7 separate regions of the Homo sapiens genome follow, and regions 1, 2, 3, 4, 5 and 6 are each reported to be linked to region 7. Evidence: microRNA targets listed by miRTarBase, many of them from high-throughput screens and not tested one by one. Region 7 holds a microRNA gene; each other region holds the end of a gene's coding sequence.

Evidence for each region. Region 7 holds the annotated microRNA hsa-miR-4662a-5p (UUAGCCAAUUGUCCAUCUUUAG, at 2,917-2,938, shown strand). A microRNA usually pairs through its seed, bases 2 to 8, with sites in the 3' UTR of a target mRNA and lowers its output. Matches are read on the target gene's strand: a 7mer-m8 pairs with bases 2 to 8, a 7mer-A1 pairs with bases 2 to 7 and ends in A, and an 8mer does both.
Region 1: miRTarBase lists MSRB3 as a target of hsa-miR-4662a-5p. Seed matches in the 3' UTR shown: 7mer-A1 at 2,670-2,676.
Region 2: miRTarBase lists SREK1IP1 as a target of hsa-miR-4662a-5p. Seed matches in the 3' UTR shown: 7mer-m8 at 3,517-3,523.
Region 3: miRTarBase lists PAQR7 as a target of hsa-miR-4662a-5p. Seed matches in the 3' UTR shown: 7mer-m8 at 3,411-3,417, 7mer-m8 at 2,777-2,783 and 7mer-A1 at 2,655-2,661.
Region 4: the mRNA of RIMOC1 is a reported target of hsa-miR-4662a-5p. Seed matches in the 3' UTR shown: 7mer-A1 at 4,447-4,453.
Region 5: the mRNA of NDNF is a reported target of hsa-miR-4662a-5p. The part of its 3' UTR that is shown has no 7-base or 8-base seed match.
Region 6: miRTarBase lists TMEM245 as a target of hsa-miR-4662a-5p. Seed matches in the 3' UTR shown: 8mer at 1,887-1,894.

What each region holds. Positions count from the first base shown.
Region 1 is chr12:65,462,229-65,466,756 of GRCh38, reverse strand. MSRB3 (methionine sulfoxide reductase B3) reads right to left here. Exons shown (of 7, transcript NM_001031679.3): 7 at 1-3,602. The coding sequence ends at 3,435. Among named protein-coding and RNA genes, the nearest start is that of LINC02454, 140 kb to the left of the region's middle.
Region 2 is chr5:64,720,584-64,725,219 of GRCh38, forward strand. It overlaps SREK1IP1 (SREK1 interacting protein 1), which reads right to left. Exons shown (of 5, transcript NM_173829.4): 5 at 1-3,990. The coding sequence ends at 3,801. Among named protein-coding and RNA genes, the nearest start is that of SHISAL2B, 32 kb to the left of the region's middle.
Region 3 is chr1:25,859,213-25,863,848 of GRCh38, forward strand. It overlaps PAQR7 (progestin and adipoQ receptor family member 7), which reads right to left. Exons shown (of 3, transcript NM_178422.6): 3 at 2,272-4,636. The coding sequence starts at 4,627. The coding sequence ends at 3,587. AUNIP (aurora kinase A and ninein interacting protein) reads right to left here and starts at 245. Exons shown (of 3, transcript NM_024037.3): 1 at 68-245. The coding sequence starts at 145. RefSeq lists enhancers at 1-525, 423-652, 526-1,151, 3,436-4,205 and silencers at 143-402, 1,003-1,062.
Region 4 is chr5:41,916,712-41,921,347 of GRCh38, forward strand. It overlaps RIMOC1 (RAB7A interacting MON1-CCZ1 complex subunit 1), which reads left to right. Exons shown (of 6, transcript NM_175921.6): 6 at 305-4,636. The coding sequence ends at 588. It also overlaps the pseudogene LOC100419715. Among named protein-coding and RNA genes, the nearest start is that of FBXO4, 6.3 kb to the right of the region's middle. RefSeq lists an enhancer at 1,636-1,795.
Region 5 is chr4:121,032,641-121,037,276 of GRCh38, forward strand. It overlaps NDNF (neuron derived neurotrophic factor), which reads right to left. Exons shown (of 4, transcript NM_024574.4): 4 at 2,973-4,636. The coding sequence ends at 3,624. Among named protein-coding and RNA genes, the nearest start is that of NDNF-AS1, 36 kb to the right of the region's middle.
Region 6 is chr9:109,016,502-109,021,137 of GRCh38, forward strand. It overlaps TMEM245 (transmembrane protein 245), which reads right to left. Exons shown (of 18, transcript NM_032012.4): 18 at 1-4,004. The coding sequence ends at 3,959. Among named protein-coding and RNA genes, the nearest start is that of CTNNAL1, 5.3 kb to the left of the region's middle.
Region 7 is chr8:124,819,074-124,823,709 of GRCh38, forward strand. MIR4662A (microRNA 4662a) reads left to right here and starts at 2,912; the gene lies at 2,912-2,978. MIR4662B (microRNA 4662b) reads right to left here and starts at 2,985; the gene lies at 2,905-2,985.

The DNA.
Region 1 (4,528 bases), not on the chromosome of region 7:
CCATCTAAACAAAAGATAATCCCCTTTACCATTTGTTTTGTATTTAAAGCAAGACATTTTAAACACAAGTAATACGGAGAAGTTTTCAAATTGCTACGTCATTTGCATTAAGAATTTAAATGCATCTAAGAAGTGAAGAGTTTAAACACATGGGAATGTTCTCTAGTAACAGATATTGCTGCTTTCTTCAGATCCATTCTGCTTGAATGTAAGGCTATACTTTTTGCACACCAACAGAATTCTGCATCTTCTAATGGTACAGTAAGAGCTGGAGTGCAGAGAGGGAAAGTCCCATGCACTTCCTATGTTAAATGGCATAACTCCCACAGATCACATACACCTTGCCATATTGACTCAGTTCATTGCACTCCATATCCTGCAAAAATAAATCTAGTGCTTGACAGCTGACATTATTGCTCACTGACGTTTTAGTAATATATTTCTTTCACATAAGACAGAAATATACTGAAATTTGATACCACTTAAACCCAAAAGCAATCTGGAATTAAACCACATGCATACACCCCACTTTTTTTCAATAGATGTTGCATTTTTCTTAAAGTCGATCCTGGAAAATGTGGTAGAAGAAAAACTGGCTTTCCTTGAAACAAAGACTAAGGATTAGAAAAAGAGGGGCTTTTTTTTGAGTGAAATGTTAAGCCCTACGATATAAATGAAGGAACAATGACAATCCAGTCTCTGTGGAGAGGGAAGAGGCCTCTCACTGATCCTCCTTGTCTACCTCAACACTGTGGCCCGCGTCCCACGGACCCCAGGGGAGGCTATCCTACAGAGCTGGAGCAGCCGAGAGGTGCTGTGTGTGCCTCTGAAGGATGGGCTGGAGGCTGTGGCAAAGCCCTGAGAGACCTATTTCTTTGGCCACCCCAACGTGGAATCCTGGGGTCACTGGGAAATACTAGGGCTTTCTCTGTGAGATTGGGAAAGACTTCTAGGATGGTCTGGACGCTGATGGCTGAGGTCTGGTCTTAAATTTTACACGTCATTTCTAGAGAGACGTGAAGCCTACGAATTCCAGAGTGAACCCAGGGCCTGGGGTGAAATGTCTTGGAACCTGAGGGAACATCTGGATGCTCAGATAGAAACCTCTTATCTGAGCATCCAGATAAGACCAGAGCTCATCTGGAATCAAGTGTACATGACTATAAAGAGTCCACCGGGATGTCAGGCTTCTTAGAGAGGTGCTTGTAGAGAGAGACATGTAGGAATGTGGACATGGCCACACTGACGCTGTTTGTCACAGATTTTCATTCTAATTTCTTGTTGTTTCTTTAAAATTGTCAAATGTCCCTCTTTCTTTTTTTTCTCTTAGTGCTTACAAGGAAAGCTGTCAGTCTTCATAAACTTTCAAAGAGTTACAAAAATACGTATTTTTTAAACTACAATTCAAGATTAGCATCCAAACCTACAAACATGATGTACATTCGTCACACACCATACAACCTTCACACCTGGCTACAGCAATGTTGACTTACATCACCATTGTTTATACTTGTGAAAACTTTATTGTGCACAGTGACATCCATTCCGCCAGACTTAATGTTATAAAGCAGCTGAGCAGAGCTTCTCAAAGTAAAACTAGCCGTGTTGCTACAAAGGGAAATTCTGGCTCTTGGCCCAACTGTTTCCATACCAATCAGCTAAGTCAGCCTCCTCTCTGCTTCTTTCCATTTCAAATGCCTGGGCTTTGGCCTTTGAGGCAATTAGAACCAGATCAGTTTAATTTTACAACACTGATCTCAACTGTATAGCAATATAGTGAATTTGCCCTGAGAGTATCAATACATTTTACAAATATTATGAGTCCCAGTTTATGCATGAAGAAATAGGCACAGAGAGGCTACATGGCTTGTCCTTTGTCACACAGAAGATTATGTTGAGTATGAAACTTGAGCTTCCGTTTTAGCTTTCCATGTGAATGCCCATGTCTCTCCAGAGGTCACCTGGAGCTCTGTGCACAAGGGCCACCCCACTTGGATTCTGTTTGTTACTTGTACTGCCCTGTCAGTTTTTCTGCCCAGCACTGAATTTTTCAGTACCCAAGACTTCATCCTTGATCTTCTCTGCTCTCTCTCATTCCTGCTGCCTTGATGAAGTGTGTTGCCCCTAATATTTTATTTTACACAGTGGAATTTGTGCCCTTCCAGCTGCAGCTGCTTTTAGGTGTGGAGAGAAGGACTTATAAAAAGGCGATGGACAGGCGTTCTTCTTTTTGAATTTTAGACCAAGTGGGGCTCAATATTTTACAGTTGTCTTACATTTGAATGCTGCTTTCTTTTTCTTTTCTTTTTTGACAGGATCTCACTCTGTTCAGGCTGGAGTGCAGTGGTATGAGCTCAGCTCACTGCAACCTCCGCCTCCCAAGTTCAAGCGATTCTCCTGACTGAGCCTCAGGAGTAGCTGGGACTACATGCATGCGCCACCATGCCCAGCTAGTTCTTATATTGTTATTATTATTATTTTTTGAGATGGAGTGTCACATTGTCATGTAGGCTGGAGTGCAGTGGCATGATCTCGGCTAACTGCAAGCTCCGCCTTCCGGGTTCACGCCATTCTCCTGCCTCAGCCTCCTGAGTAGCTGGGACTACAGGTGCCCACCACCACGCCTGGCTAATTTTTCGTATTTTTAGTAGAGACGGGGTTTCACCATGTTAGCCAGGATGGTCTCCATCTCCTGACCTCGTGATCCACCCGCCTTGGCCTCCCAAAGTGCTGGGATCACAGGCGTGAGCCATTGCACTGGGCCTCCAATGCTTTCGATGGAAAATAAAATAAAATAAAGGCCTAACAGTGTGGTAATGTTTACTTCTCTGCCACAACACTCAGTATGCCCCTTTGGATCTGGCAACAATTTAACATAAGGAAAGACTTTAGACCTTCACACCCTTTCAGTGAGAAAAAAAAAAATGACCTTAGCTCAAACTTTCCACAAAGCTGAACAGTCTCATTAAAACATCACTCCAACCTTATCTTAGGTGGGTCTGTGCAAAGGCCTCAAGGCCATGTGTCTTGCAGGTCTCCATGCCCTGCACTGCCCAGCTCTGGTCTCTACACTGCAGAGGAGATCTCTATTTTCATGTTTGAAGACCATGAACCCTCTGCTTCTGAATCAAAGGGGGAAAAACTGCAAAAGAAGCCATGTGCTCAAAGAAAAGAATGCCAAAGGGTATAAGTGGCTTGTGAAGAAGTTTCACAAAGCTGTCTCCATTTGCTAAAGCTATAAACAGTTCTTGATCTAGTCAATTGCAAAATACATGGATGGCCAGGGCTTCTGTTTAAGCAAAAGAAGAAAAAATATCAATAGCACAAAACTGCCCTTATAGTTTTTGAAAAAATATATCTATTAAGATAACAATTTTGATTTTTTTAATAAGCTGTGCATTAAGTACACTTTGTTTCCATCACTCTCCATTACTCTAGAGCTCCGCTTTGTCTGCCTGGGCCGGGCTGGCGACCCCACTGCCTCCCTCGGCGGTGCCACTGCTATCCGCAGGTGTAAAAGACAAGGCAGCCGAATTTATGCAGTATCTTTTCCCAGTTGGACGAGGCCCATCATCAAAAATGTGCCCAAGGTGAGCACCACACTGAAAGAGAAGAACAAAACGTCAGGGAAAAGCATGTACAAAGCAGGCTTTGAGAGGAATTCACATTAAGCAGTTTAAATGGATGACCAGCCTGTAGAGAAATGAAGGAAACCATCGTGGATGATTTCTAATCCGCCTGTCAATAGCCGCAAAGATGGTTTCTGGCAGGCTTTGCGCCACATGCTGAGAACAAAAAACACTAGAATTGTGCATATCAGAAATCATTTAGGAGCCACGTATTTTTTGATCTGTGAAGTCTCTCAGCCAGCTGAAAAATGACTGCAGTAATTTTATGAATCAAGTTGACCCTTGATCTTCCCTTGTAAGAAACATGGCAGCATAAAATCTTTCCCCCGGCATTACTTTTGGCTTTGGATGGGTGGGTTTCAGATATGCAGAAGTCCACTGAAAAGATACTGTTTAACTGGCCATGACAGAGGTGATGTTTGCTTTCATGGGCAGTAAAACTTAACATCAGACAAGTATTGGATGTTCTTGGAACCCAGCGAAGCAATGGCAAGGCTCAATAGATTTATGTCACAGTCACCAGGGCTGCAAATGTAGCAAAAGGAAACATCTCTAGCACACACAATTGTTTTTTTCCTGGCTTCCAACAAGTAGTGTCATGCTGGCTTCTTTATCCAAATGAACTCTAATATAAAGAAAAGCAATAAGCTGTTTAGCTAAAATCAATTTTACTGACTATTCAAAAAGCTGGGGAAGAAGAGACCTAAGGTCTAGACAGAGGCAGAAGGAACATCATGTTGGTGTTTGAGAGAAATAAAGCCCAGAGAAAGTTTCTCCAAAAAGGCTGGCTCAGTGAACACCCCTACACTAACTGCGTTGATGCTGGGTACAGCTCCAGGAGATGAAGGTACATGTCACACTTAGATATCTACTGCCCTTTTCCATCAGGGATGGGGCGA
Region 2 (4,636 bases), not on the chromosome of region 7:
TGCAACTTCCACCTCCTGGGTTTGAGCGATTCTCCTGCCCCAGACTCCAGAGTAGCTGGGAATACAGGTGCCTGTCACCACGTCCGGCTAATTTTTCTATTTTTAGTAGAGACAGGGTTTCGCCAAGTTGGCCAGGCTGGTCTTGAACTCCTGACCTCAGGTGATCCGCCCGCCTCAGCCTCCCAAAGTGCTGGGATTACAGGCGTGAGCCACTGTGCCCGGCCCCCCTTGAAACTCTTTAATGGTGTCTCATTGCTTACACATTACAGTTCAAGCTCCCAAACACGGAACACACGACTCCTTCCTCCTGTTCCTAAGAACTTAAAATGGTAGTCTCAATTCTTACCACTTCCTGCCTCGCCTATGATACACCAGCAACACCAGATTGCTTGTAATTCTTGACAAACACATAACACAGCTTGTTCTACCTCTGGTGTTTGTTCACAGTACCCACTCTGTCAGGAACTGCCATAACCCTCATTCTTATCCTTAATCAAATTGCAATTCAGTCACTACTTTCTCTAGGTAGCCTCTTCTAATTTATCCAGACTACTTTAGGTAACCCCGAGTTTCTATAAACTCATGTTCATGTCAATTACTGCACTAATTATATAACGGTGTATGCTCTGGTGTTTCTCCTACCAACTACACTGTGAAGTCCTTCAGGGAGGCAAATGTGTCTTACTTATCTCTGTATCCCCAGTACTTAGCACAGCGTTTGCCACGTTAGGTACTCAATAAATATTTGTTGAAGAAAGGATTCAATGGCATTTTTATCAACATTATTAACAACTCTTCAGCCTAGTTTACTCTGAAGGTAAACTAGGGTTATATAATTTTAGATACAGTTGTAAATACAAACACATATAGTTGTTTTACTTCTCATTTATTGTTGTTTTGACCTCAGAGAGTCAAAGATGTAAATGGAGATGTATATTAAGTATGAAGAAATAGGGATACCTCTGAGAAATATCAACCAACATATGATATGCAAAAAAAAAAAAGGGGGAAATTGTGTGGTGAGAAGGTCCATCAACCCAAAAATAATGGCCATAAAGTGCCAGATAATCTAGTTCCAGATGCAAACCTAAATATAAATTCTGCCTGCATTTGGTGAAAATGACATGCATTAGGTTGTAAGAATATGAACCAAATATCAATTATCTGCTTGAAGAAGTTGAACGTGTTTATTATATTAATAAATTCAACCTTTACTATTATAGAATGTTATAATAATTTCTAAAGTGAATATTGCTTGAATTTTAAAATATTGATAATTATATATATTAAACCTTGAAGTGATTTCAGAGATAATCTGGTACAATATTTTATAGACGAAAGACACCAAGGCCCAGGGAAACTAAGTGACTTTGTTCAAGATCATACAGGTAGTTAGAATGACCAGGACTGTTTTACTGCTAAATTCAGTTTTCCTTCTGGTACATACTGCCTGGGAGGGAATTTCATTAATTTTCTTCTAAAACATATTCATGAGATTTGCATCCAATCTCAATAATAATATCATATTAGAAGAAAATTACTTCAGTGAAAATAAATTTTTATTCAATTTCATAAACTATGCTAAAATTATGGGAAATTTACTTAGAAATGCCAACATCATTTCTGGGGGGAAAATTACTGATCATTAAAATATTTTAATTTGCATACTACATTAGTTAACGAGGACTGACTTTTGCTCTTCTCAGTCATTATTGTGTCACCATTCAGAAACCTAATGAGCCAATTTATAATCTCTACAATTAACAGTAATAAAACTTACAAGTAATTAACTATTTCACTACAATTACTATCATTTTTAACTATCTTACTCAATGGAATAAGGTCATTGCCTTTGTAGCATTTTCTAATTATTTTTTAATATTTTATTTTACTGTTATTTTTTCAAGGCTAGTCAAGTCAAGCAGTGGGAGTAAAGAAACACCACTGCACTTGTGCCAGCCTCGTTTTTAAAAAAGCTTTATATTAAAAACCGATTTTTAAAATCTTGATAATCGAAGAATATTTTCAAAAAACTAGCAGCAAAGGCAAAACAAATCCCTAAAAACCTACTGGCTCTGTATTTTTTCTCCCAGTAACTGACTGACCTATTTAAACAAAAGCATTTCCTTTTGAGAGGCCCAAATGACTAAATTAGGTTATGGAAGGGTTGAAAGCGTGAGAGCTCTCATGGCTGCAATGCAGAGGGCTGTGGATACAGCTTCCCTAGAATTTAAGCATGGGTAAGCATATGTTAAGAGGAGTTATAAGGCTCCCTGAGTCTTACTGAGGGTATCCACATTGGGTGCCAGGTGAAACAAGAATCAGTAAACCTTTCTAGCCTGTGAGGTTAAGTATACTTAGCTGATTTCACTATCATGAATTCACCTGCAGCCGTATCTATAGGTTATCAATTTGAAAATTTCTAAGCGCACCATAGTGAGGTATTTGCAATCTTTGGTGCTGTGCCATGACATTGGTTGATGTTCGATGCTTCTACAACATAAGCATTTACTTTAGTGGACATAAGGGCTACCTAAGTATTAAGCAAAGTAACACTGATCAATGTGAAAATAGAAATTTAAAAAACGTATCTACTAATATGTGTTTGAAAATGCTTACCCATATAAAATTTCCATTATTATACAAAGGCTTTCATGATGCAACTCCCTGGCTCTTAAATTTTAAAAAGTACAGAATAAAATTCTCAATTCTTTTTTTGACACTTTTTACTCTTGAGTTTGCCACTAAAGTAAAAGAGAGAAACATCCCAAACTGGTCATTTATGAAAACGTTAAGTTCAGTGTGAAACTTGCTTTAAAACTACAAATTATGTCAGACAAAATAAATATATATGCTCACATTTATAAAATTTTCCACAGTACTCATAGAAACAAGCTTCATAAAATTTATACTGAATACAATAAAAATCAGTTCTAATAAAGATTTAGCTATCTTCCTAAATAAAAATTTCTGTGTTTGAGGTATCACTGTAAGACATGCCAATATGGCACATTTGTAAAACAACCCAGGAGTCTATTCTAAAAATCACAACCAACTCAGCATCATCTCTGCAGACTTACTAACAGGCTGAACTAATCTCTTTATACAAGAAGTATTTTAATTATTACAAAAACAAAGGAGGCAGGTACTAGAAATTCTGCATTTCATAGAAGAGTAAAACTTTGTTAGAGATATTTTCATGATCATCTACCTGCAGACACCATTCATTTAAAAAGTCCTAGTCAAGACCATTAAGCAGCTGCATCTTCTACAACATTGAAAAAAAATCCCTAGAGATTTAAAAAACTGAAGAATTTCACTATCTTTAAAAGATATTATATTTTAGTACATAAAGCTATTAAATTTCTCTGTGTCAAGAGCAAAACATTACCCCTTACCTTGCTTCATCATTGGAAGGTGGACACCTGATCCAGCAATACTCATTAACTGCTAGGTAGATGACCCATGTTGATGGCAGTAAAGCCATTTTACAATGAACTTATGAAGTAGTAACACTAGCCAAACACACAGAGACACAAATACCAAAAATGATGTGTTTAGTATACACAAATAGCTATACTTGGGGCATGGCTATCAAGTAACAAGACTGATTTAATACTTTACAGTTACAGCACATTAAAAATATATTGCCAGAGGGATAATGGTCCCAAATACGAAAAATGTCTATATGGAAAAGGCTGTGATTTATTGCAAAGCATAATATATAGCAAATTCCAAGGAAGGGCAAACACGTTTTAAAAACAAATTTTTAAATTTAACGGCTTAAGCCAAAGTCTCAGTTACTTTCTGGAGAATTCAGAACTATTAGGTGTAGAAGAATGCTTTTCCTTTTTTCTCTTCTTTTTTTCCTTTTTGTGATGTTTCCCTTTTTTTGATTTACTCTTTTTTTCTTTTTTCTTTTCTTTCTTCTGATATTTTTGTTTCTTTTGTTTTGAAGTGTCCTCTTCAGTGGAACTGGATGAGTAAGACCTATGGATAATAATACATACTGACTGAGAATTGCATTTATGACTGATAGATAAATTTAAGTGGGATTTGAACTGCCTTAAATTCTTCTTGGAGTAAGGTAGGGAGTATAAACATAAACTTAAAAAATGCTTCATATATTTGCATTCCCTTAAAACGATGAATTTAGAATTTTTGCTGCTTGGTCACAGAAACCAACAAAACTAGTATCTATTCCACTCAATACTAATGTAATGAGTTTTAAAGTCAATAAGGATGAAATTATTTTTCTGTGATTTTTGGTTTTTCATGCAGTCATATCATTCAAAATCCTAAAAGGCAAACAAAGGGGCATTCACCAAGCCTTATTATATTCACTTGTGTATACAATAACTTCGCATATTTTCTTAAAAGTGTCTCAAAAGTTGCAATTCTCTATTTTAAAGGGCTATAATTGTACGTTCATATGAATGAATGAAAGCTGAAAGTTAGCAAAATAAAAGCACTTTTGGTAATTCTTCTGATTTTTCAAGTACTTGATCCCTCTAGACGGAGAGTGATACAGATGAATACTTGCATTACAAAATAATTTTCATTAGTTACAAAAGGATGCTTTTATGCTATATATAAATGAAAAAGGATGGGTTATCATTGTGCTTTTGAAAAATAT
Region 3 (4,636 bases), not on the chromosome of region 7:
CTCCTCCCGTCTTACGCCTCCAGGCCCTACCTGGTTCCCAACGCCCTCTCATCCCCCAGCGTCCCACCTGCACTTTCCGCCTCTTCAGCGCCGCCGCGTCCAGCCACACGCCGCAGGCCTCCTCCTCGGGGCCTGTCCGCCTCATGGCCGCTGAGGAGACGAAGCCGGCAGGACGCCGGCGCAGGCTCCCGGCGCCTCAGGGAACGCCAGAACCGCGGCCGCCGACGTTCGGATCTCGCGCCAACGCTGGGGGCGGGGCTACGTCGCGACCGCCCCGGGCGCCAGCCCCGCCCCGGCAAGGCCCTGGCCCCCTTCGCTGTGCCCCGCCCACGCACTAACTTTCGCGGCCGGTCCCTTGAGTGCGTGCGGCATATTTCCCTGCGCGGAGGAGTGCGTGTTCTTTCTGATCCGCTCTTTCAAGAGCGGATTCGGAAGCTGCTGTGTGAACGGTTCTCGACAGCCTCAGAAATGTACATTTTCTTTTTGCTGTATTGAAAATTTCTTACAGTATTTCCCGGGCTTAGGAATTTGTTCGTGTCATCGCTGAATCTTCGCGATCACCCCCAGAAGGAAGTGGCTGAGCCGAGATCAGGCCCGTCGACTCCAGACCAGGGGTCCTCGACCTAAGTGGTTACCAGACACTCGAGTGTGCGAACAACTTTGGTAATTTTTTTTTTTTAATGTAAGCGTAACTACGAAGCCACATGGGAGAGGATTTTGAAGAGGTTAAAATTTGGGGTCAGGAACTAGATTTCAGTCCTGCTTTCACCGTTTACTGTGCCTTGGATTTTAAAGAGGATCAAATGAGGTTGTGAAAGTACTTTGTGAATTCAGAAAACCCCTTGGAAATGCAAAAATGTTGGCACCCCCACCCATCCTTCCGTCCCTAACCACAATCTCCATAGATGGAATATATGTACATTATACGTAATGTTTACATATTGTATATGTAAAAAAAATTTTTTTTTGAGACGGAGTCTCACTGTCGCCCAGGCTGGAGTGCAGTGGCGCTATCTCGGCTCACTGCAGCCCCGCCTCCTGGGTTCAAGCGGTTCTTCTGTCTCAGCCTCCCTAGTAGCTGGAAGTACAGGCGCACGCCACCACACCCAGCTAATTTTTGTATTTTTAGTAGAGACGGGGTTTCACCATTGGCCAGGCTGGTCTCGAACTCCTGACCTCGTGATACGCCTGCCTCAGCCTCCCAAAGTGCTGGGATTACAGGCATGAGCCACCGCGCCCGGCCAAAAATTTTGTAATTTTTTTTTTTTGGTGGAGGGAGGATAGAAGCTCAGCCACCTCTTGCCCAGTCTGCAGCAGGTCAGCCAGGAACCTCAACCATCTCTGCAGCCAGAGCCTGTCTTCATGGTGGACAGAGCCATCTCGCTTTGTCACCCAGGCTCGGGTACAGTGGCACAGTCTCAGCTCACTGCAGCCTCAACCTCTTGGGCTCAAGCGATCCTGCCACCTCAGCCTCCCAAGTAGCTGGGACTACAGGTGTGTGCCACCACGCCTGGCTAATTTTTGTATTTTTAGTAGAGATGGGTTTTCGCCATGTTGGCCAGACTGGTCTCAACTTCCTGCCCTCAGGTGATATGCCTGCCTCAGCCTCCCAAAGTGCTGGGATTACAAGCGTGAGTCACCATGCCTGGCCTATATCAAAATATTTATTTATATACACATATTTTATGTGTGTGTGTGTGTGTGTGTGTGTGTGTGTGTGTGTGTGTATTTCATAAGGTCCCCCATGATATTTCAGCAGTGAAGTGATATTTCTAATTAATTTGGGTTTTCTTATCTTCCCAATTTTCCTTCATTGTATATATATTGCTGTGTACTATGGAAAAAGCAATATTATAAAAGTTAACATACTTCTTCGGTGCGCATGCGACGAGGCTCAATATGTGTGGTGGAGTGTGCACGCCCCTGCCCCCTCCACTAAAAACAAAACAAAAAAACCCTCCTTAATTGAAGGAAAAACCAAACAAAAAAAGTCTTTGTCAGATCATAAAGTGGGATTATCATATTTTAAACACATTATTTTAACTACTTATAAAACTTTAGTAATAAAACTGCCGCCCACTCCCTTGCCAAACAAATTTTGTATATATAGATATGGTATATAAGGCCCCAACCCCATCCCCCAGCAAAGATAAAACAAGAACTGCTCCCTGCACCCTGTGTCCACTCCCAGGGGCCCCAGCTTCCTCCGGAAAACCTCCAGTAATGTGAGCAGGGGCCCCTCCCGGAAACAGGAGACAAAAAACAAAGAGGTGGCTACTGTCACAGTACTTTATTGCATCCAGGCCATAATCCAGACCACCCAGCCCCAACCCCACTTTTCCTTCCACACCTCTTGGTCTCTGCACAGGTTTCCCTCTGCCTGGAATGCCCTTCCTATTCTCCATCTGCAAACTCCTATTCACACTCCCCAACCTAAGACCCTGAGGGTCCCAGGCAGCACAGGTTAATCCCTCTCCAGCACCTCCCTTGACAGTTCATTCTGATATCAAAGCCTTTGTCGGCCAGGCGCAGTGGCTCATGCCGGTAATCCCAGCACTTTGGGAGGCCGAGACGGGCAGATCACCTGAGGTCAGGAGTTCAAGACCAGCCTGACCAACATGGAGAAACCCCGTCTCTACTAAAAATACAGAAAATTAGCCAGGCATGGTGGTGCATGCCTGTAACCCCAGCTACTCGGGAGGCTGAGGCAGGAAAATCGCTTGAACCTGGGAGGCGGAGGTGCAGTGAGCCGAGATCGCACCATTTTACTCCAGCCTAGCCAACAAGAGCGAAACTCCTCAAAAAAAAAAAAAAAAAAAAAAAAAAAAAAAGCCTTTGTCATCTTGCATTGATCCACAGGGCCCAGTGGTGACCTGCCTCTGAGCAGAGGCCCAGGAAACACTGAATGGATAAATGAATCCGTAACAAGGGAACCAGGAGAGAAGCTGGGAACAGGCCGTGTGGGACACAGAAGCCAGAGCTAGGAGATCTGGGGCTCACTGTCTGGGATAGTGACTGAAGGAGTATGAAGCACTGGATGGGACCCATTTGTATCTGGCACAATCTACTACCTTTGGGGTCTCTCTGCAGCTCCAACACTTGTGGCTGGGCTTCAAGGGACAGTAAGATCCTGTATATATTTTGGGCCTACCCCTTCCGCATCCAGCAATGAAATCTGAGTAGAAGTAGGTTGCCAAGGCCTCCCCTGGCTCAGCTCAAATCTGACTCTGGCCTAAGTTTCACCTCCTGCCTAGACAATCTAGAAGCCCCAATCCTCACCAAGCTGACCCCCAGCCTCACCCCAGTGAGTGGCAGTGGAAGGGCAAGCTGGAGTGGCCCACACCGTTAACTCTTTCCCTCTCCCTGGGCAAGGAGCTGGGGCAGGCCCAGGAGTGGACCCCAGCAACTCCTAGCCAATCCCTAAATCCAAGAATTGGCCAGTGATGCCCTTGGCAGTTGAGTCGTGCACAGAGAGTCACTGTGGGCCAGACACAAACAACTTTACCAGGCCTTGTTCCCACCTGGAGCCAAACCCAGACCCCTGTCCCCCAACTATACCTCCCTCCCTACCAGATGCCATCCCCCTTCACTTGGTCTTCTGATCAAGTTTGCGCTGTACCAGCTGGCTCAGGAGGAATGCAGTGAGGATGCTGCTGCCCACCGTGAGCAGGAAGAGGCCAGAAAAGTTGTGAGGCCAGTGCGTGTGCAGAGGCTCATAGATGGGCCGTCGGGCCTCATAGTCCAGTGCCACAGCCTCCAGCTGAGCCAGCGTGCACAGCACCAAGAAGATGTGGAAAAGTTGGTGGCCCTGCCCGAAGACATGGCAGCTGCCAGGGAACCAGCGCTCGGGCATGAAGGTAGAGAAGAAGGCAGCAGCCAGCAGAAAGAAGACCACCTGGCACTTGTGGTAGAGAAGAGCTGGATCATCCGTGGTGGGGTCGGAGGACACGAAGATACGATGCACCACAGGACTAATGTCCAGTGCGTAGGCCAGGACGGAGGGCACCTCCTGGCATGTGCGGCCCAGCAGGCCTGGTTTCTGGATGTACTTGTTATAGCAGGAGCCAATGCAGGAAAGCCAGGCGAGAAAGGCAGCCATGGGCAGAAAAACAGCCTGCACCTGGGCATGCCAGGCGGGCTCGATAGCATAGTAGAAGTGTGCCAAGGCACTGCCAAACTGGTACACGGCCACCCCCACATAGTCCAGGAAGAAGAAGCTGTAATGCCAGAACTCAGACTTGGCCTGCAGGAGGTGAGCCAAGGCACTGAAGGAGAGGTAGGTGAAAGAGGCAAGGACAATGATGAAGAGGGGCAGGGCGTGTGGGTCTCCCCAGAAGTCCACGGTCTCCACAAAGAGGGCCAGCCGCAGCAGCAGTACCAGGGCCGCCAGCAGGTGGGTCCAGACATTCACGGCCTCGTTGTGCTGCTGGAACAGCGTGCGGAAATAGAAGCGCCAGGTCTGATGCAGCGGCCGGTAGCCCGCATAGATGTACGGCTTCCAGAAGAGCGGCGGCACCTCAGCTCGATCCACCGTGAAGACAGGCTCTGGCTGCAGAGATAGCTGAGGCTCCTGGATGACCTGCCGCAGACTCGGCAGGAGGTGGCTGAGTTTCTGGGCCATGGCCATGGCTGTGGG
Region 4 (4,636 bases), not on the chromosome of region 7:
AGATTCTCAAAGAAGTTATAGAGTGGACCCCAAAAAGGTCAAAAACACCTAAATGGTTCTCTAAAAAAATTCTCTGGTACTCTGTTTTTCTTTTTGTAATGGGCCTCCTTTATCAGTAAAATCGATATTAAAAAATGCTAATTAAATGAAGATTGTGTTAGTCATATTTGGCTTTTGTGTTACTGTTAAAGTGAGAATAGAAAATGCTTAATGACAAAAGGAACTTTAATTAGAGTTTAGTTAATAACTACGGTTTCTTTTTAAGCTTTTAATTCTAATCTGTCAACCTAAATGACTTTCCCAGGAATATTTAGTGACATTCATCTGCTGGCTATGATGTACAGTGGAGAAATGTGTTACTGGGGATCGAAGTATTGTGCTGATCAGCAACCAGAAAATCATGAAGTGGATACTAGTGTGTCTGGAGCGGGCTGCACTACATACAAGGAACCCTTGGATTTCCGAGAAGTAGGAGAAAAAATCTTGAAAAAGTATGTATCTGTGTGTGAAGGACCCCTGAAAGAACAAGAATGGAATACAACGAATGCAAAACAAATTTTAAACTTCTTTCATCATCGCTGTAACTAGTAAGTTCATCTAGTCCTTTTCAAATAGAAAAACAACAAAACCCATGAAATGGAAAAGAGAGTTCCAAAAAAGAAGACCTGTTGATACTGAATATGAGAACATTACACTGCATAAAGATATCCAGCTTGGGTACCCTACTAAAACAACATCACCATCTTTTTCATTATATATTAGTAAACCTATGAAGGGATGATTCTTTAATTTCTAAAGTGTTGTTCAAACTCACCTTAAAATACAGATGTTATGTCACTAATAATGAGTAGTAACCCAATTTAGCTTTACAAAGATTTTTTCTATTACTTTTTTTTTTTATTGTGGTATATGTAACACAAGTTTACCATTTTTATCATCTTTAGATTATTTTTAAATCTCACTACCTTGAAGTTTGCCATGCTTCAGAAATTAAAGTCAAGTTACTTCACTGCTTTGAATACATACTATGGATATAAATGTAGGCAAAATGAAAGATTATGACTAATATTCAGATTCCATTTTCAATAAGGTAAATAATGAAAGATCTCACAAAGGAATCATTGTGTTTAATTATTTTGCCATGTATTACTAATTGTATTTAAAATTTCTACTTCCCTTAGGCATTTTATAAAAATTTAAAAATTATTTTTCTATTTTGTTTAAAAGACAATGCATGGCTTTTCAAGTGAGTAATGAAGATAAAAACCAAGCTAGGTTAGTCTACCATTAGTTCATATGTTTTTGTAGCACATCTTTTCATAACATACTGAAATTTTAATGTTTTTTGCCTTTAATAATAGGGGTGAGTGTTAAAGGCCAGAGAGCCTAACTTGATATCTTGCTCATGGTCTTTCTGTCTACCTCAACTCCTGTTGTCATCTTTGGATGATCTTTCTGATACCTTGCTGATACCTTGGACTTCTGCCCAGTGACTTTATTACATTCCAGCAGCTTACTCCCGTGGCCGCACTTTGAATGTCACCACCTTGAGTTTCTCTTTCTGGTAAAATTTCAGTAACTGATAACTGCCCTCTTTTCAGTTTTTTCACTTCCTTATTTTATTGACTTTTCTCTCCTTTATGCTCATTCCACATTCTTCAGTTCCTTCTTACCCCCTTTTCTTGACTGCTCCCCTTCCTCCTAAACTGTCAGCCCCTTTCAGGCTTTCTTCCCTATCCACCCTCAGCTTTATGGGATACTATATGAACTAATCTCACCAGTTATTCTTCTTTCCCTGGTCTTTTAGTCTAGTCCTTTGGCAAGCCCTCAACCTCAGATTAATCCTATTTATTATCTACCTTTTCGGGGATGCTGAGTTCTTTGTGATGGGTAGTCCTTCAAAGTAGAATCACTACAAGTGTCTCACTTCAGCCTTAGAAAAGCCCTCAATGTAAACCTTATGTTTGTTACTAGGGTGGCCTCTCTCCCATTTCCCGCTGTGGCTGAGCCAAACTTCATTACTTTCCTTAGGCCCTCTGCCCCTCCCCTAGCATATGGCTCTTTCTCCTATTGAACAGAAAATTGAGACTATGAAGAGGTCAACTTGTATTTACCAACTTTACTCATTTTCCCATTTTAGAGGAAAAGAGGTTGCCTGCTTCCTATCAAAGGCGACTCTGTGCTACATGTTGGTTTCATCTTCGCTGTCTCTCTCATTTCCCCACAAAGTGTTGTCTCACTTTCTGCCTACCTTTTAGGTATTGATCTTCACTATATTTTTTTCTCTCTCTCTCTTTTTTTTTTTTACTTTACATATTTTATACAATGTCATTCATAACTATGGCTTCTTTTACCACCTGTAATAACAGACTGAGTCTCAAACCTGTAACTTGTATCCTGACTTATCTCTTGCTTTCTAAACCTTGTTTCTAACTGTCTATCAAATATCTTCATTAGACATCCCACAGTAATTTTAAGCTCAGTGTTTCCAAACGTCAAGTCCTCATCTGTTATATAAAATCCTTTCTGCTTTGTAAGTTTTCTCTTTTTGGGATTTTCCGCAGATCAGGGCAACACAGAATGACTACCTTCCCAGCCATGTCTCTGCAGTCATCCTGTGTAATCATGTTCTAGTCCAGTGTTGCTCAAACAGTTAAAATCCAGGCTGCTTTTGGTAAACATACAAATTCTGATATAGAGCCTCTGTGGCAAAGGGAATTTCTCAGTTCCTGCCCCAGCCCCCTTGTTTATCATTACACAGCTAAGATTTTTATTTAACTTAGCATTTTAGCAAGTTTTCTTATGAAAATACCTTTGTGCTTTCTAAGTATAAAGATTTAAATTATTTTTAATACGGTTTTTAGAACCACAGACTATCCCTCTTTTTAGAGCATCCTGATCAATTGCAAGTACTTCCACTTCTTCCCTAAATGCGCTTTGTGTGTTTTCCACCTCAGTAGCCTTGCACACATCATTACTTCTGCATCCTTCTTTGTGACCAAGTGAATACCTACCTACCTCTTAGGACTCAGCTTCAGTGATTCTGTTTTCATAGGCTTTTTAAAGCCCTTTTCAGTCAAATTAGATGCTCCTTTGTTCTGGTCCTTTACTCTTCCCCTCCCATGTTGTCGCACTGATCACACTGCTTTGTAATTATTTTCTTTATTGTTGGTAAACTCCATATTTTAAAAATTTACCTGTATACATAGTGCTTAATGCATGGTAGGCCCTTAGTAATGTTTTTGAATTAATGAGGCATGATTCTAAATGCCAAACTTTGCACAAAAAGTTGTTGCTATTGGATTCCAAACTGCTATGCCCTCTATACCAGTGGCTGACAAGGCATATAGGGATATATGCCATCCTGAGAGGAGTAAAGTGTTTAGATTCTGAACCTGAGAAAAGAGAACTTTCTCTTAAGAAGTTGGAAACTTCATTTTACCTTCGTGACCCTGGTAGACCACTTGGTCTCACTGGTTGGTACAATTATGAGGGTAGTACTGGGTGCTTTTTATACAACTTTCCATCCCCCACACAGTTGGAGAATAATTTGTAGACCATGGCAGTTAAAATGCTTTTTACTCTGGTGTATTATAGAATAATGAACACATTTTTATATATGTTAAAGCCTGCTAAATCATTCACTTAGAATGAAGTAACCTCAAGGTACCAAATACCCCACATAAGGAAAGTACTACACTAAATTCACTCAACTATTGTATGCCTACCATATGCCAGATTTTATCCTAGACCCTGAGGATATAGCTTTTTAAAACCCCCTCCTGTTTCAGAGCTTATATTCTAGTGGAGGAAGTTAGACAAGCATTTTAAGTAATAAATGTATAGAGAGTGTCAAGTGATGAGTACCATGAAGAAGAATAAATGAGGGTAAGGGGCTAGTGTGATAGGGAGAGGGGTGGGATGCCATCATATTTAGGGGTGGTTGGGAACTGTCTACTGCTTTAGCATTTGTGTCTTCAAATTTCTCTCCTTTGGTTATATACCTTGCGTATTCCGCACATTGATAAAGTTTCTTTCTTACAGAAGTTCTGATATTGAATTAAGGAATGGGTCACTACTTAAGACTTTATCATTTCAGCTACACATAAAAGGTTTCTCTCCCCTATGGATTTTGCTAATGGTTGAGTGATACCTAAAGGCCTTGTTGCATTTTTTACACTTGGGGTTTCTCTTCGGTTTGAATTCTCTCATGGTTACCAAAACTCTGTTAAAGGACTTTTCACAGTCGTTAAATGTGTATGGCTCTTTCCCAATATGAATTTTTTTGATGTTAACTAGGCTTTTAGACTTAGTTAAAGACCTGTGTGCTCTGCTGCATTTATAGGGTTTTGGGCTGCTGAGAATAATTGATGCTGATTAAGGTGCAAATCATGACTAAAGACTTTTCTTTCTTCTTTTGCATATAGTAGAGTGAGGTGAGGGTCGTGGCTAAAACCCCACAATAACTTTACATTCCTAGCTTTACAGTCTTGCTGTGAATTCTCTGGTGTTCATTAAAGTGTGAGCTGTGTTAAAAGGCATTCTTAGATTCATTTTAACCACATTTTTAAAAACTCACAGTTGGTTAACATGATGGTTTCAGATTGCTTGCCTCTTTTCTCTTTCTACCTTACAG
Region 5 (4,636 bases), not on the chromosome of region 7:
ATATAGAGATCAGCTAAAGTCTGGCAGTGGTCACTCTACTTGGTCATAGGGAGAGGGCCAGAAGGCAGGCTCCCAGCCAGTTGTACCTCTGTCACACCATATCAGAGTGGGGGAAGGAAGTGGCTGGAGATGCTCCAGATGACATTGTCCTCCAAGTTAGATGCTTTTGTGTTGTTTTGAAGCCAGCCAGTGAATAGAGACAAAGAAGTATACTCTGGGTGAGTTGTCCCATGCTTTCTATAGTGAAGAAGTGCTTAAGATGAAGTCCTGAGTGGACATTAAACTGGGAGTAAGAGAATCTAGATTCTAGTCTTAATTGGGCCTCAATTTCCTCATCTGTAAAATGAGATGGTAGAACTAGATAATCTCTAGAAGGGATTGGTAAAATATTGGAAGAGATATTGGATTGGTTTCAGCTACAATGGATCCCTTGAATATATACAAAAGTGTAGGTGTGTGTGCACGTGCACGCATGTGTGGTTTCATTCAAACTGTTGAGAATTATTAAGCCTTTTTCAAACTCTGAAGTTCATCTTTGTCTTTTTTTAAGTCTCTTCATCATATCAAAATCATTTTTTCAAATGTGTTGAGTAATGAAAATAAGTGCTTTTCAGAACTAATCCTTTAATGCATGTTTAAACATTTAATCTAGAACTTGATTACAAATTTAATGAAGAAAATAATCTGTTATAATTCTTATAGATGTTTATTAGTTTTTAGATTTAAAAAAAAAACAGGGCTTATAATTAAAGCAATTGACTAATGATCTCACAGCCTCAAGGTTGTATGCAAACCTAGATTAGAAATACTTTGTCTCTAAAAATAACAAAATGACCATAACATTTTTTTTCTTACAAGTTTGAAGTGGTCAATTATGGGTAACACATACATTCCTAAGGAAATCTGAAATGGTCTTGAAGAATAAGTTTCTTTGAAATGGTAAGTAACACAAAAAGTGTACTTCTTTTTTTGGAAAATGATTCACAAATAACCCCTTTAAACCAACAATTGGTGATTTATATTCTGGTCAGGATTTTGGAGTCTGGGCAATGCCATTACTTAGCTGTTTTGACTATGAGAACTTTTACAAATTTATTCTGACTTCTATGATCTTTAATCTCTTTTCTACACCTGAAAAATAATAAAGATTGTAAACTAGATGTCCTCAAAGATTCTTCCCTCCCCAGTGATACATGACTATACTTGGGACTCTCTAAATGCCCTGCTGTCAACAGAGCTATCCTGAAGCTTACTGAACACAAGGTGGTGCTTTCATATGAGCTTCTTTCTAGTTCTTTTGTTAATTAAGAACAAGTTTTTGTTTTTTGTCCCCAGTTTAGCCAAATGCTCCTGAAATAGAAATGCATTAGTAAATAAGAGCTTCATTTTTAATAGGTTTTCCCCTTTCTTTAGGAGTGATAGAAGTTTCATAATGTGTATTTCGTTTTCCTAATAATTTCAAAAAGGCAAATTTCACTAGGGCCATGAAAGTATTCTTGGATTTATCCAGACTATGTAGAAACCACCATCACAGCTGGCTAAAAAGCAAAAGCTTGGTTAAATTGACTTGGCGTGGTTCCCAGGGTTTCCCAGGCATTAAGCAATATCTGAAAGTTAAAAGTCTGTCACCTTCAGAAGCTGCAATAACTCTTTGATTCACTGTAGTCCAATTTAACACATTGTTATGTAATAATATATATATGTGAGTAATATGAGAAAGCTGATTTTTCTTCAACGGCAGCACATTCATAACTTAGGATATAACATCTCTGGGATGTTGTCAATTTTAAAGTCTCTCCTTCCTAGTTGGTTGGTTACATAACCATGGGAGTACTGTTCTTTATCTGTTAAAAAATTCTTTCAGGTGTCATTACTGTTGTGTATAGATGTGGTCACTTTTGTTTAGATATCTTAACACTGAGGAGTTGGATGAGAACGTTTTTAAGGAACTATTTTCCCCTAAGGCAAGCAGAGCATATTTTATAAGGACCACCACTTACACTACCTTAGTCATAGCCATCTATACTCCACAGGAATGTTGCTGTTGAATGCCCACCATATGAAAGGCAGTGTCAGCATGCAGCGGGCAGTGTAGAGGTAAAGTGATTACACCTGTCCACACTTGTAGTCACAGCACTTTAGAATCATAGAATTCTACCAAAGACAACCTCTTATAATAGAAAGTATCTAACAATGTCAACTCATCTAAATCTATCACCACCAAATGTTAACAGATGGGAAAGGGAGATGATGGGAGGTAACAGATTTTCTTAAAGTCATATTGCTTTAGGTGATTGTAAATTCCACACTTTTCTGATTCCTGGACCAATATTCTCGTAACACCTCATGATTTATGTATAGAACCTGTGGAGAATGAAGCTACCTAAAAGTGCCCTTTGTGCACAGTCTCTGATAAAATATGTTATGATTTGCCTAAATTGTCTCTTACACTTGAAATTACTTTTAAAAAATCCATGAAAAATCAAAGTTAAAAGTAGCAGACCATTAATGTTATAAAACAACAGCTTTCCTAGTTTTCTTCTTACTAATAAAAGTCCTGATTGGTGTTTGTTAAGTTGCATCAGCTAGAGATTAAAATAATTATTAACTATTTTGCTAAGATTCAAACAGATGGAAAATGCTTGAAATATCTCAATTTTGTACTTAAAATAAATGCTTATAAAGTGATATATTTTAGGTTATTAAGGACAATTTGTTGAATACTTGTCGAGTTAGTGTTTGGCTTGTCCTATTCTTTTAAAACAAGTCTATTGTAGCTCTCTTAACTCTCCTAACAGCTGGCTCCCATTCAACGTCAAAAGTACAAATTTTAATAACTATTTCTAATGCCATAGTAACTTTAGAGAGATGGGGCATCCCTTTTTAATTATTAAAAAAGGGTCTGTTTTGGTGCCAAACTACAGAAGGTGCAGTTTTGAGGACAGATTAGAAATTGAATACACCAAGGTAGCTGCTTGGGAAAATGAACAGTATATAATCTAATCTCTTTAATTTTATGTACATGAATATAATGTATGTCAACTTTGTACATGAGATACATATAGTATTTAAACATTTTACTCAACAAACAAGAATTTACAATAGCAATATAACTGACTAGAGGGCTATCAACTTAATAATACTTAGATTAGATCTGTACTTTAATAGGAAAAGAATTTAATAGTTTACAATCATAGAAACACTGACATTTAAAACAAGAATTTATAAAATAATTTATATATATCCTAGCATCTACAGAGAGGAATGATTTGCATTTGTGGGTGTGTGCAATGAATGGCATATTTTAAATTTTTAGGTAATAAAATAATTTAGAAGCAGTTCATGCAGTGGTCAAAGCAAGGAATGGCAAGTTCCTTCAAGAAGCCCTCTATCTTTGACACCAACCGGCATCAGACACACACTAGGTACCATGGGGCACGCTAGAACAAGTCTCCTTCAAGAGTTACTTATATAAACATCAATATACACACGTTGATATCCTTCCTTCCATAGTACAAGTACAGGTCACAACTTCTCTCAACTGTGGGAGTAGTCAGTTTATACTTAAAGTGATTTAATGTCCCTCCTGGAGTTCTACATAATATATCTCTATAAGAAGGTAACTAACAGAACTTTCTAGTTTTCACAACCTTACTCTGATACTTTACAGAGTGCCCCCCATGTCCTATGACATAAACATCCAGCAGGTAAGATTTGCCAGGCTGAAGACCTTTAATTGTTTCTGTGGTCACTGCTTTCTGCAGGTTTTGACTGTGGAAATATTTACAGAGGACCTTTTCTGACTTCTTCCTTATATCTGGTCCTAGACATTGGTTTTGCTCTCTTTTCTTCTGGTCTTCATTGTAGTTATCATCCACTTCTTTTTTGTAGATGCAAAACTTGTTCCTTTCCTGAGTGCCTAGCCAAGCCACGGTGGCTGAGGAACAGGTACGGAGCTTGTCAAAGGCTTTGATTCTTGTGTCTTCAGGAAGAGAGGGAAATGACTGCTTAGTAGGCCTTGTGGTAGCTAGAATTTTCAACATAGATGCTCCTTTCTTGTTTCCTTTCAGTCGAACGAGGTATTTAGCTTTAGGTTTTCCTCTAAGCTGAAACTGCTGAATGCCTTCCACATTCTGAGACAGAAGAAGTTTCCCATCTCTTCTCACTTGGATTTGGACAGCATCCAGACAAGAGTGAATAAAGAAGGTGACTTTTTGGTGAGAAGAGACTGGAGCAAACCGTAGAAACTTTGCTCCCTTCCTTTTAACAAATACATCTGTTATCTTCCCATCTTTTAGCTCGACTGTCTTCTGTTTGGCTTCTTCCTTGGTCCTGGCAAAGGTACCTACATAAGCGGTGCTCATGTTGCTGTTGATGTTGACCACAAATACATCAAAGTAGTACTGCGTGTCGGGTTTCAGATCAGAGACGGTGAAGATGTTCTTGTTTCCTATGCAGATTTTCTGAATATCAACCTTGGGCCTGGAGTAGACATGACGCCCCAGTTTTGGAGAAGGCTTTGCCTGGAAACTGCGTTCTTTACCTGAATTATCAGAAGGAAATCCAAAGTGGGCAAAGTCAAAGGGGCTGAAGTCCAGACCAGGTTTCGGTGCCATCATAAAAGCATCATCTGCAC
Region 6 (4,636 bases), not on the chromosome of region 7:
TGAATTTGGGTCTTTCTCTAGAAAGTGACAGGACCACCTAATTTTAGAAGTCCCATTCTAGCACAGAATTTCTGACTCTAGTAGACAGAACAACTTGATTTATAATTCTCTTAAACTATCAAAAATAACCAAACAGTGGCTGCAGACAGCATGTGTGTTTTTTTTTTTTTTTTTTTTTGCAGGTTCCCAATAATCGGTAAGTTAATAAAATGAATATATTTTGATGGCAGAATGTTGAAAGACAAGAAACTAATAAAAAGTACTTGTTTTTAGCTGGAACTAGCATTTGGAAGTAATGCTAGCCAGAGGCTATTTCCACTGTGAAATGCACACTCAAAGTCCTATTGTAATATTATTTTAAGGGTCTTAGGAGGCCCCTCAGAGGAGACTGCAAGGTCAGGGCTAGAGTATGAGAAGTCCTAAGGGTTTTTGTATTTTGTTTTTTTTTCCTATAAACCCTGAGGTTGAAAGCTCTGGATAGCTCACCTAAATTACTTTCCTCTAATCTAACCCCTCACAGCCTGAATTTCTGAGTATTGCTTGACCAGTAGTGACACATTCCTGAGGCACTAATATAACCCAAATGGAAACTACAGGTCCTAGGAAATCCAGATAGGTCACAATGGGTTCATGTGAAGATCAAGGTGAGCCAGAAGATCTCATCTGCAAGCCATTTAGCAGCCCTTTAACTGTAAAAAGCAGTTCCACTTTCAAAGGCTACAGAGTTTGTTTACATACAAGGTCTCCATGTAACATGTTGGATTTCTTCCCACTGTCATGGGCCAACCCACACTAGACTCAGAAGTCAAGGGAAAGCTCTGCCAGCTAAACACTTCTTATCAAAGAGGGTGTGAAGAAACCTTGCAATTTTAACAATAACTAAGACCAGCATGTAAGGTGGTCTTACAGAGATCACTTGCAGGAACAGATATTGATAGGAACTTCAGAACTCAAACAGCACTCACATAACATGGAATTTATGCTGAAAATCCCATGCCTTCTCTCTCAGAAAAGAGAGGAGCATACCTGTGTGGAGAGCTTGTATTTTCTCCCCTCCCATCCATTCGGTTTACAACTGAATAGCGAATGTGAACTTGAAACTAATCTTTAATAAATCTATAAAATGCAAGATATTATGACCAAGTTCTGTACTCCGTTTTTACTGAAATGACTTCTACTTCATCAACGTACGGTCTGTTCCTGAAGAAACTTCCTCTTTCTGGGTCAAATTCTGACTGAGAATGTAAAGGTAGGTTATCTTTGAGACTTGAGCTTAAAACTCCTACCTTTTCATACCACTTGATCTCTGTTGCCCTGTGAAAATTCTGTAAACCTTCCTCATTGCATCTGAGGAATCATGCTGGAATGCTTCTTTCTGGCTCGGAGGGTTCCAAGACCTCCCCAGCTAGTGGACCTTCCTAGTCCTTATGCCGTTGCTGTAGCAATGGGGCAGGTCAAGTTTCCTGATCATAGCTGTGAAGCACTCTGGGGCACCTCTGCTCCTGGTATTTCAGGGTGATATTACATCACTGCTGCTAATTTTGGTAGCTCTAAAGTATTCTCTTAAAGACCTCTAAGAACCTGATATTTATGCTAATAATTACCCAGCAAGAAACATTAGCTGTAGTTTTTTGCAATATCACTTTATACAGCTAAAATCACTTTGTATATGTATAGTAACTCATTGTATATATTTGTCTCTTATGAATATGTGCTAATTACATCTATAAATCAACCAGTATATAATTAACAAAAACAAATGATTTTTTAGCCTTTTAATGCAAAAAATTTAAATTTAGTATTACATATGATCTGGCTAAGAGCAAGAGGCCTTCTTATGAGTGATCTCCATCACCCTGTACAGTGCCTGGCACAGAATCTAGAGTTTAGCCAACTCTCAACAAATGTTTTAGTGAATGAATGAATGATTGACTAAAGAAAAACATGAGTTACTTAGTGACCAAATCTAATACTCAGTGGAATAGCTGATTATAATCGCTAAAATATTCATAATAGAAATAAAGAGATCTGTATGCAGTCTACTCCATATAGTCAAAAGATCTCATGGTAGCCTTTTCTAAATGAAATTTTTCTTAAGTAGTGTAAGAATAAATTTAAACTAATTATAATTATCAGTGACTTCTTAGGGAGATGTTTTAGGAAAAATTATTAATATTTCTACCTTTAAATACTTTCCAAAAAGGAAATCTTCAACGCTTAAGAACTACCCCCCAACACTTTTTTTTTTCCTTGGGACAGTGTCTCACTCTCTCACCCAGGCTGGAGTGCAGTGGCGCCATCTTGGCTCACTGCAGCCTCGACCTCCTGGACTCAGGTGATCCTCATACATCAGCCTCCTGAGTAGCTCAGACTATAGCCACACCACCGTGCCCAGCTAATTTTTTTTTTTTTTTTTTTTTTTTTGTAGAGATGGGGTTTTGCCATGTTGCCTAGGCTGATCTCAAATCCCTGGGCTCAAGCAATCCACCCACCTCAGCCTTCCAAAGTGCTGGGATTACAGATGTGAGCCACCACCTACAGCCTGGCCAAGAACCCTTTTCTCTCCCACATTCCCCTGGGAGCAGAGGATAGGCCTGATGATTGTTTTAAACAGTAGAAAGGGTTCAGCTAAGAACTACAGTCCACTCTCAGCCCTGTCATGTACTATAGGACAAGTCTTCATTCACAACAAATGGATAGCAACACCAATCTCGTAACACTGGGAAAACTGCATACAATATTTAGAAGGAACACTAATACAGCAGAATCTGCACACAACGGAGTCAAAGATCTGAGGCCAAATCCTACTACACTTTACGACTTTGAGTTGGTCACTTTTCTGAACCTTAGCTTCTCCATCAGTGTAAAACTGATGTAAAATAATATAAAGCTATATGAAAGCTGATGTGATGTACTTGTGAAATAGTATGTGCAAAAGGACTTTGTAAAATGTAAAGCACTATGCTGGTTATTGTGATATCTGAGATATTTTTAAAGTTGCAATTCAATTCAACAAGCATTCATTTAGAGTCATGTGCAAGGCACTGTGCTAAGAGATGGGAAAATACTACATAAATACAAAATTCTGCTGAAAACTAACTTATTGGCAGAGTTCCAAATAATGAAACGGATACATTTAACAAATCAGAGTATTGCTACACCTGAGATTTTTCACTTCAACCACCTGGAAGGAGAAAACCTAATAACAGCATGAATTTTATCATACTGTTACCATTCATAGCAGCTTAATAAGTATTTCACTTCAACGTGGTCAGCCAAGTTTTATAATTTGGCAATAGTGTAAAGAAGCGTGAAGAGAAAAGGAAGAGGAGGAAGAGCTTCAGTCTTTGTATCTCCCAGGGTTATAATATAAAACTGAACATCAAATAAGCCACCCCACCCTTATACTTATGATTTATTATTTCTTAAAGAGCGTATAATACATTGTGGGAGAAGGGTAGAAGATTCATTTTTCCTGCTCACTCAACTACACACTCAAAAGTGAAAGCCCTCTTCCTTGAAAAGTGACTGTCTTAGAAAAGTTTAACAATACATTTCTTAAACCAGGAAAAAATTACACCATCTATTCTTTTAACAGCAGGTAGTTTAGAGTTCTTAAAATAACTTTATAAATATATAATATAGTAACATAGATAACCAAAGTGGAAAAATTTCAAGCCAGGGTACCAGTGTATAAAATGAAACTTTTCAAGCCATCTTAACAACAGTTAAGTGAGCAAACCACCAACTCTGAACTCTCAAGCTGTGTTTTAAAATACAAAGCAGCCCGCAGCAAGTTCTCTCTTGTCCAGGCATTCTGTATGTAAGGCCAGGAGGCTTCTGCTTCTTTCCTGGGTTTTGCTTGCTAGGCACAGCTGGAAGGGCAGAGGGCCACAGCTGAGCTGAACTCGCTGTCAAATTTGAACTTCCTAGAAAAATCACTGCAGAGGAAACCACATCAACCTACTGAAGATTTCAGATCTTCAGAAATGTCACGGAAAGTCCTAAAAGAAAAAAAGACGGAATGATTAGTTGATTACCATAAAACAGTATCCTATTTTTACAATCTTTTGGAGCCCTAATGAGATTATATAGTCACTATTTTTTCTTAAGATTTTCATTGAGTATTGTTTCAAAGTCTGCTAGTTGTTGCTCATTCTCATTAACAAGAACTCCATCTTTTTGCTGGATCTATCCAAAGGACTGTTTCCCCAGACTCCCCTGAAACTACACATGACCACGTGACTACGCTTTGGTTAATGAGATTTAAGTAGAAGTGTTGTGCAACTTCTGGGCAGTTCCTTAAAAGAGAAGAGCAATCTTCTTCAGCTCTTCCACCTTGTTACTGGCTGGAAGTGGATATGATGATTGATGTTAAAGAGGAAAAACCACTAAGAGACCAAAGATTAAATGCTAAGTGGATACATTTTATTACAAAATAGAAATCGTAATCCAACAGAGAGTCCAAGCTCTAAGGGATGTGGTTCAGTGCAGGAAAAATGGGTTAGGTCTTTTCATCAAGTGACCTTGTACTTGAACTGTTTCTGACCCACATTAAACAAGCTAAGCGAACAATGTTATTGGCGGGTAATATCTGGGCTGGATGAAGGTGGCTGAGCACCGTGCCTGACTGCTG
Region 7 (4,636 bases):
ACCCTTCACCCAGTTTCCCACTGAGTATCCCAATGTGTGATTATAGTACAACATCAAAACCAGAAAATTAACATTGGTGCAATCCACAGAGTTTATTCAGATTTCACAGGTTTTACATGCACTTATTCTATGTGTGTGTGTGCCCATCTGTGTGTATAGTTATATGAAGTTTTATCACGTGTATGTGATTCATGTAACCATTACCGTAATCAAGATAGAGAACTGTTTCATCACAACAAGCCTCCCTCATTCTACCTCTTATAGACTTATCTCCTCTCCTTCCTTATCCCTAGCCCTGGAAACCACTGATCAATTATTCTCTATCTCTATAATATTGTCATTTCAAGAATACTATAAAAATTCAAAAGGTTACAATATGTAACTTTTGAGATTGGCTTTTTTCACCCAGTGTAATTCTCTTGAGATTCATCCATGTTGGCTGTATTAAGAGTTTATTCCTGTTTATTGCTGCATAGTATTCCATGGTATGGATGTTTAACCATTCAACCATTGAAGGACATTTGGGTTGTTTCTAGGTTTTAGATATTTCCAATAAAGCTTCTATGAACACTCATGTACAGGTTTTCGTGTGAACTTAAGTTTTCATTTCTCTGAGATAAATGTACAAATGTGCAAATGGTAAGTGCATGCTTAGTTTTATAAGAAACTGGCAAGCTATTTTCCAGGGTGATGCTACCATTTGACATTTCCATCAGCAGTGTGTAAGTGATCCAGTTTCTTTACATCCTCACTAGCATTTGGTGTTATTGCTTTTTTTAATTTTAGCCATTCTAATAGTTACACCATAACAACTCATTGTAGTTTTAATTTGAATTTTTCTAATGGCTAATGGTGTTGAACATATTTTCATATGCTTATTTGCCATCTGTACATTTTCTTCTATGAGCCATTTATTTGTGGTTTTTGGCCCATTTTGTAATTAGATTGTTTTGTCTTCTACTGTTATGTTTTGAGAGTTCTTTATATAGTCTAGATACAAGTCTGTTAGATGAATATGTGGTTTGCCAATATTTTCTCCCAGTCTCTGGTTTATTTTTTCATTCTGTTTTTTTTTTTTTTTTTTTTTTGAGATGGAGTTTCGCTCTTGTTGCCCAGGCTAGAGTGCAATGGCGCATCTTGGCTCACCGCAACCTCCACCTCCTGGGTTCAGGCAATTCTCCTGCCTCAGCCTCCCGAGTAGCTGGGATTACAGGCATCTGCCACCAAGCCTGTCTAATTTTTTGTATTTTCGTAGAGACGGGGTTTCTCCATGTTGGTCAGGCTGGTCTCGAACTCCCGACCTCTCGTGATCCTCCCAAAATGCTGGGATTACAGGTGTGAGCCACTGTGCCCAGCCTTTTCATTCTCTTAATAGGGTGTTTTTCAGAGCAAACATTTTTAATTTTGATGAAGTATCAAGATGCCTCAATTTTTTCTTTTATAAATTGTGCTTTTGATTTTAAGTCTAAGACCTCCTTAACTTAGCTCTAAGTGCTAAAGATTTTCTCCCATATTTTTCTCTAAAAGTGTTGAAGTTTTATGTTTACATCTAAGTCTGTGATCTATGTTAATTTTTGTATAAAGTTTTAAAGTATGAGACTTAAGTTAAAACAAGAGATTTTGTTTTGTTTTGTTTTTTGCTCCAACACCACTTGTTGAAAAGAGTTTCCTTCCTTCATTCACTCGCTTTTGCACTTTTGGTATTTTTGGTAAAAAATCAGTTGAGTATATTTTTGTGGGTCTATTTCTGAGTCCTCTATTCTGTTTCATTGATTTGTGGGTTTATCTCTCCACCAATATCATACTACCTTGGCAACTGTAGCTATATAGTGAGACTTAACACAAGGTAGAGTGCTTCCTCCTACTTTTTAAAATAGTTATCACAGCTATTTTATTTTCAAAATTTTTGCCTCCCATACAAATTTTAGAATAAGCTTGGCTTTGTCTACAAAATCTTTTTGGGATTTTGATAAGAATTGTGTTAAACTATTGATAATTTGGGAAGAATTGACATCTCCACTATGATGAGTCTTCCAGTCTATGAACATGGTATTTCTCCTCATTTATGTAGGTCTTTATTTTTTCATCAGCATTTTGTAATTTTCATCAGAGACATAGTATATGTATTTATACCTAAGTATTTTATTTTCTTTGAAGTGATTGTAAATGGTATTGTTTTTAATTTCAGTTTCCCCATGTTCATTGACAGGATAAACAAATGCATTTGATTTTTGAGTGTTGATCATGTATTCTGTGACCTTACTTAATTCACTTATTAATTCTAGGAGGTTTATTTTAGTTTATGTTTTTTAGATTCTTTAGGATTGTATAAATAGACAATCATGTTATCTGCAAATAGAGATGATTTTATTTCTTTCTTTTCAATCTGTATGTCTTGTATTTCTTTTTCTTGCTATATTGCACTGGCTAGAACTTCTACTACCCTGTTGAAGAAGATGTTGAAAGCAGACATCTTTGTCTTATTCCCAATCTCAGTGGGAAGACGTTCAGTTGGCACCATTAAGTATGATGTTAGATGTTTTTTTTTTTTTGTAAATGCTTTTTCACAAATTGAGATATTTTTCGTCTGTTCCTACTTCAGTGAGTTTTTTTGAAAAATAGGGATCATACTTTGCTTTCACAGGATTGCTGTGATGATTCTAGGTGAAACATAAGTAAAAGTTTATGGCTGTTGTGGGCCCTCAAATAAGGTTTAGAAAAACAACCTTTGGACAACATTAAGGCGAGTCATTACAACTTAAAGTGAAACCTTCTGTAGACAAATGATCTCACATCTTCACTTCTAGGTATCTCTTCTGAAGAAACATTGGCTCATGTCCCAGAGATTTATATACAAGGAAGTTTACTGCAACCATGGCTGCAACAGAAAAAGCCATTGTGTACCACAGTGTCTATTTAGCCAATTGTCCATCTTTAGCTATTCTGAATGCCTAAAGATAGACAATTGGCTAAATAGAAATTGTGGTACATCCATACAATGGAATACCATGAAGCCATCGACAAAACATCAAGATTCTATTGACCAACATGGAAAGAGTGCCATGGATGGGCACGGTGGCTCACACCTGTAATCCCAGCACTTTGGGAGGCCAAGATGGTTATATCACCTGAGGTCAGGAGTTTGAGACTAGCCTGGCCAACATGGCGAAACCCTGTCTCTACTAAAAATACAAAAATTAGGTGGGCATGGAGGCAGGCACCTGTAATCCCAGCTACTCAGGAGTCTGAGGCAGGAGAATCGCTTGAATCTGGGAGGTGGAGGTTGCAGTGAGCTGAGATTGTGCCATTGCACTCCAGCCTGGGCAACAAGAGCAAAATCTCAAAAAGAAAAAAAAAAGAGAGAGAAAAAGTGCCAAGACACAAGGTTAGGTGAACAAAGGAAGTCTCAAAACAGAACAATTTGATTTTATATTTATAAATGGCATAATATATAAATATGGCTTATAAATTTATACTTATATCTACATACATATAGTATATAAGTATGTATTTTTAAAACCCAGTCATATATTGTAAACACATTCCTAAGTGCATAGAAAAAGGCCTAGAAGGACTTGACACTCATTTGTTAACATCGGACATCCTTCGGGAAATGAATGGGATTGGGTAGAGTACAAAGGGGTACAAAAGATCACTTTAAAAAACTTTATAAATATATTTGGTCTTTAAAACATTTTTTTACAATGATAATGTTTATATTTACTATCTGTTTACCTAAATAAGACTCAGGTAGTATGGGGCAGGGAGTAGCAATTTCTAGTGGTAAAATTTCAGACAATTGTTTTCCATAGTCACTGGGACCCAGAATTCCTGAGCTCTCTTTGTTCTATTGCTGGCTGCAATATTAGTTGTATGATTTTGGACAAGTCACTTTCTCTCTCTGGGCCTCAGATTCCTCTTGTAATGAGGAGATTAAACTAGAGTACCCATGGATAAGCATTTTTATTATTCACATTTAAGCATCTGACCTCTCTTTGCAAATAGGTTTTTGTATGTGGAACCTTTATGTATACAACAGAAGAAAGCATGTCAACAACCCAACTATTTGTACCCCGGATCCATTTCAGCACTAACGTTTTCTGACTGGAGTTGAAGGCAGTGAACCCAAAGCCACCCGTCAGAACTATACTGCCCCTCAGCTGAGTGAAAAATAACTGGGTGATTTCAAGTGACCCACAGAAGCTCAGGAGTGACAGTTGCTCTCATAAAATGTGTTCCCTGAGCATTAAGCCCTGGTGTTGGCAGGGTCTGATAGCTCAGGGACTGTTTGAGCTCCAAGGAGATCATTACTGTTTCTAGAGAGTTCTATGAGGACCCTGGGTCTTTGGAAGAACTATCCATTTGTGGTTTTTAGGAGAATCAGGTCCTAGATCACTGAAGCCACAGCCCATGGCCCAGAGCTGTAGCTTTACTGCTTTGGGGCTGCAGCAGGGAGGCGAGGCCACCTGGGGAAGCTGAGGGCAAGAGTAGAGGTCAAGTGCAACACACAGCATGCTGTGAAATATGAGAAAGGCTCATAGTGTCTTTTCTTTGAAATGAAAAGCGCCATCTCGAGTTCTGTGGAATTGGGTCCAGCCTTCCTTGGCTATAACAGGCATGATAAGGATCATTTTGC